2 separate regions of the Homo sapiens genome follow, and region 1 is linked to region 2. Evidence: fine-mapped expression QTL. Tissue or cell type: prefrontal cortex. Region 2 holds a variant in brackets; the other region holds the start of a gene. All regions are shown on one strand. Distances are from middle to middle.

What was found. PIP is the estimated chance that this variant, and not a neighbour inherited with it, causes the effect.
Region 1: it holds the start of A2ML1, and the variant in region 2 is fine-mapped to the expression of A2ML1 in prefrontal cortex (BrainSeq, PIP 0.95).

The regions. Positions count from the first base shown.
Region 1 is chr12:8,821,370-8,824,053 of GRCh38, reverse strand. A2ML1 (alpha-2-macroglobulin like 1) reads right to left here and starts at 1,433. Exons shown (of 36, transcript NM_144670.6): 1 at 1,341-1,433; 2 at 689-872; 3 at 172-334. The coding sequence starts at 1,402. All of the region lies in intron 1 of A2ML1-AS1 (A2ML1 antisense RNA 1), which reads left to right.
Region 2 is chr12:8,841,787-8,844,470 of GRCh38, reverse strand. It overlaps A2ML1 (alpha-2-macroglobulin like 1), which reads right to left. Exons shown (of 36, transcript NM_144670.6): 12 at 1,110-1,337. Among named protein-coding and RNA genes, the nearest start is that of A2ML1-AS1, 12 kb to the right of the region's middle. The variant CTT/T (reference allele first, on the strand shown) is at 1,141.

The DNA.
Region 1 (2,684 bases), 20 kb after region 2:
TGTGTAGCGCAGCATGTATTCAACACTTGCACTACTTAATCCCCCCAGATTTTCCTCTCCTCTGCACTCCTTTTTTTCCAAAGCCTACTGTCAAACCACAAATCCCCTCTTTACCCCTGTGCACAGCGGTTTCCCCAGGTTTTAGTCGAACCCCAAATATGTGACTCTTACCTTGCTGCCCTGGGGTGTAGAGAGGTTTGTCAGTCTGTACAAAGGTGCCGTTCCCCTGCCTCTGAATTAGAACCTTTTTCTTCTCCTCAAAGCTGATGTTATTTCCAACTCCCGACACCCGGATTGTGGCCACTTCTTCTGTGCCACCAGCAGGAGGTGGTACCTGACCAAGAAAGGGGACTTCTGGGGAGGGGTAAGGGATTGGGGGAACAGAATCAACTGGTCTCAACCCAACAGTGAGTTAAAGGAAAGAGCTGAGTTAGATGGGGGTAGCAAGGATAGAGACATAAAACAAATTACCACGAGGAAGAATTAAGGTCAGGAACTAAAGGGAGAAATCCTAGGTCGAGGAAACCGTGGGTGAGTTATAGCCGGGGATTGAGGTTAAGTTGAGAAAAAATAGGTTTAGAGGCCGTGGCAAAAGATAACAGAAATTATACTTAAAGTAGATTATAGTGAGCCTAGGGAGGAGAATAGGCAAGTAAGGGATTCGAGTGAGGGCTGAGTCTGTGCTTACAAGAAAGGAGATACAATGTAAGTGCCTCTTCTTCAGTCCAGAGTATTCTAGCAACTTCTGGGTCTTGTCCTTGGTCTCCAGAGTAACCGTGAATTTAACATCACTGTACCCAGGGCTCAGGTCCAAACAAACCTTCTGAACGGAGGGGAAATTTAGCCGGGCTGGTAATGTCACCAGGTAGTTTCTATTAAAGGAGCAGAAGGATTTCAGGGCAATAATGATTCATTCACTCGAAAAATCCAGCACTCTCCTAAGCGCTCAGCAAGTAGCAGTGAATTAGACAGACCAAGCCCCTGCCTTCCTTATGCACCTCATTTTCTACAAGAAGCAGAGGGGCAACGACTCAGTGCACAGTCTTCAACTTCCGCCATCAGGAGGCCCTCACCGAGCACACATGCCTAGAGCACCAAGGAGGAAATTAGGCCTATTTCAGAAAACAGGGCACATTTTAATATTTATCTTTTTTAAAGCTTCCTCTTCATGCGTCAGCCTCCCTCTCTGGGTAAAGGATCAGTGGAACCAAAGAAGAGAAAAAAGGAGGAGGAAATTAAGATAAACCAAAGTTGATCTCCCCATCTCCATATAAATGTTTGAGAAAGTTAGGCGAAGAAGCCGCTGCCCTAATAAACCAATTCTGACACCAAGCACTCACGGAAGTTCTTCTGCAATGGCTGGTGATAGGGCCAACATTCCTAGAAGGAGCTGAGCCCACATCTTTGTGGGTGAGACAGATTTTTCCAGGGTCAGGGGCAGAGATCGCTCCGCGTAGCTTTATATACTAATTCCAGGTAGGGTGTGCAGTGATGACTGATGCTATAGTCAGTCACCTCCTGGCACCTGGAACACAGGAGGACTGTGTTCCTCCTTCTGTAACCACCAGGTTAGGTGGTGGACCAGGGTAGGGCCACTATTCACTTCTTTAAAGTTGTTTCTGCCTGGAACATCCATACTGGTTCAGCCAGTTTTGGGGGAAAACCAGAGCTGAGTATTCATAATGGTAAAGCTCTCAGAACATATTTTGAACTCCTCCCTTTTTTTCTGGTCTCATTCCAATTCCTGTTCTCATTTAATGTCCTTATTTTCTTTTATTATTCAATTAAGGTGTAGTTGGGAACACGGGTATGAGAACAGTTTCAATAGAAAAGCAGTAAACTTGGCCGGTCACAGTGGCTCACGCCTGTAATCCCAGCACTTTGGGGGGTTGAGGTGGGCAGATCACCAGGTCAGGAGTTCAAGACCAGCCTGGCCAACATAGTGAAACCCTGTCTCTACTAAAAATACAAAGAAAAAAAAATCAGCTGGGCATAGTGGTGGGTGCCTATAGTCCCAGCTACTTGGGAGGCTGAGGCAGGAGAATCGCTTGAACCCGGGAGGTGGAGGTTGCAGTGAGCCGAGATCATGCCACTTTACTCCAGCGTGGGTGACACAACGAGACTCTGTCTCAAAAAAAAAAAAAATTAATACTACTCAGTATTGTTGTGACTGTATGGAAATAGGGACACACACAGTCCTAGAGAAAATAGAATGTGGATAACTTTCTCATGGCAATTTTGTAATACACACCAAAGCCTTTGAGATTTGCATATTCTTTCACTCAGCAACTCCTACTCTGGAAATGTTTCTTAATGAGGAAAAAAAGGACAGCATGCATGTATGCACAAGTGTAACACTGAGTTTTTTCACACTGTTCTTTCTTTTTTTTCTTTTCTTTATTTTTTATTTTTTTGAAGTAGAGTCTCACTTTATCACCCAGGCTGGAGTGCAGTGGCACAATCTCAGCCCACTGCAGCTTTGACCTCCTGGGCTCAAGCGATCCTCCCACCTCCACCTCCTGAGTAGCTGGGACCACAGGTAGGCACCAACACTCCTGGCTAATTGTTTTGTATTTTTAATAGAGACAGGGTTTCACCATGTTGCCCAGGCTAGTCTCGAACTCCTGAGCTCCAGGGACCACCTCAGCCTCCCAAAGTGCTGGGATTACAGGTATGAGCCACCG
Region 2 (2,684 bases):
ATGTGAATTTAACCCCATATCATCTATTTGATAATATTGACCAATGGAACACAGAATGAAATGTATCCTGGCTGGGCTCGGTGGCTCATGCCTGCAGTCCCAGCACTTTGGGAGGCCAAGGTGGGCAGATCACCTGAGGTCAGGAGTTCAAGACCAGCCTGGCCAACATGGCGAAACCCTGTCTCATATAAATTAAAAAAAAAAAAAAAGTATCCTGAGTCCCATCCCTCCCCACTCTCCCTCCCAACCACCCAGCTGGTTTTGTTTTTGTTTTTGTTTTTTTTGGTCCTGGCCAGCACTATTTTCTCAGGTAATTCCTCATTTTATTTTCCCACACAATTTTCCTGTGTTCCTGCTCAGAATCTCTTTCTTCCCCCAATGTTTTCCATCTCTTACACCTATACTGGGCCATGCAGTATCTCATAGCCACATAGGAATATTGAATACTTGAGGCCGGGCGCGGTGGCTCATGCCTGTAATCCCAGCACTCTGGGAGACTGAGGCAGGTGGATCACGAGGTCAGGAGATCGAGACCATCCTAGTTAACATGGTGAAACCCCGTCTCTACTAAAAATACAAAAAAAATTAGCTGGGCGTGGTGGCGGGCGCCTGTAGTCCCAGCTACTTGGGAGGCTGAGACAGGAGAATGGCGTGAACCTGGGAGGTGGAGCTTGCAGTGAGCCAAGAACACACCACTGCACTCCAGCCTGGGCAACTGAGCGAGACTGTGTCTCAAAAAAAAAAAAAAAGAAAAAAAAAGGAATATTGAATACTTGAAATGTGCTCAGTCCAAACTGAGATACGCTTTAAGTGTAAAATACATACTGAGTTTCAAAGACACCGTTGAAACAAGAATGTAAAATATCTATTAAAACTTTTTATATGGCTTTCGTGTTAAAATGTTAATATTTTGGATATAATGGGTTAAATAAAAAATACATTTAAAATTAATGTCAACTGTTCTTTTACTTTTTTAGTGTGGCTTTAAAATTGTTTTTAATTAGATGTGCATCTGCAATTCAGATAGCCTAGGTGCACCCTCTGGCTGACTCTTCTCATTCTCTTTCCTTCCCAGCATACTCTCACCCGTCCCCGTTTCCCGGTCTCACATAGTAGGAGAAGCTGATCTCTTGGTCAGGG[CTT/T]GCATCGGCCGGGTCGATGTAATAATCCACCAGCACTTCCTGGGGCTGGCCACATTTCAAGGGGCCGTTTAGCCGGTGGATGCCAAGGAAGCTGCGGGTTGTGCTGTAGAAGGGTCGCAGGTGCAGGTAGGCATTTTGGTAGTAACGTGGCACTTGTTCCGGATTATATACTAAGTCTTCCATTTGAAACTTTCCCTGAGAATAAAAGAGAGAGAGAGAATTTTAGCATGTGCTCCAACCATGGAAACCCCACGGACTTGTTACGGTTTTCAAATAGAGCTCTTTCTCTCAAATCTTCACTGCCTGAGAATGGCATGTGGGTATTTCATTAGCGGTCCAGCCAAGGATGGATAAAGAATCCATAAACGTAGCTGTGTACAGCAATATTTTGGTATGTAGGAGAGCGACAGAAGGGCTGAATTATAGTTACTAAATGAGAGGAAATTGTGGGTGATGTATCTTCACAGATATTCCTGGGATAGATGAACGTGACTTAGATTATATAGAAATCAAAGATTATATTTCAGGGATAAGAAAACTAGGCACAGAAGACACTAAGATTGAAAAATAATTATTTCTGAGTAACTGAGTCATGCCTAGAGTAAAGAAATAGTCAAATTAGCCACAAGGCAAGTAGTATGTGTTTGCTTAAGTCCTGAGGTTGAACGATCTCATTAATGGCTCCAATTCCTCACACGCACCCCGCCCCCTCCGAGATCAGCATCCTTGAGCATGTGGTCTTCCAGTACCCTCCTAGTCTGTGCCCACTGTTCGATTTGTTGGGAAAGGGGTGTTAACATATGCAACAGGGGCCGGGCGCGGTGGCTCACGCCTGTAATCCCAGCACTTTGGGAGGCCAAGGCGGGCGGATCACGAGGTCAGGAGATCGAGACCATCCTGGCTAACACAGTGAAACCCCATCTCTACTAAAAAATACAAAAAATTAGCCGGGCGTGGTGGCAGGCGCCTGTAGTCCCAGCTACTCGGGGAGGCTGAGGCAGGAGAATGGCGTGAACCGGGGAGGCGGAGCTTGCAGTGAGCCGAGATCACGCCACTGCACTCCAGCCTGGGTGACAGAGTGAGACTCTGTCTCAAAAAAAAAAAAAAGAAAAAAACATATGCAATATACAGAGGTTTGGAAAAGCCCTGAACATCAGCTTTTGCACTTGCACCTCATCACTGCCATAAGAATATACCTGGGCTAGCTGGCTCCTGCATGAGAGGCATGCGGAGCAGCAGCTTATGGCCAGCCGATCTGCAGACAGTTCTGGAAATCGAAATCAGCAGAGCTGCCTGACTGAATGCCCCAGATGCACAAGCAGTGAATGCTTTCTGCTGCACGATACTGAAGTTTGTAGCTGTTTGATAAGAAGCATTGTTGTGGCAGTTGATAATTGATACTTATAAGTTATCTAGAATCTAGAGTTCTCTTGTTTGCTGTTTTTATTAAGTAATGAGGGGATGGGAAGGGGAAAGAGAAAGAAAAAGACTCTGAGTCACCTATTCCTCCCTGCTCTAACTTCATATATAGATAGGATCAGA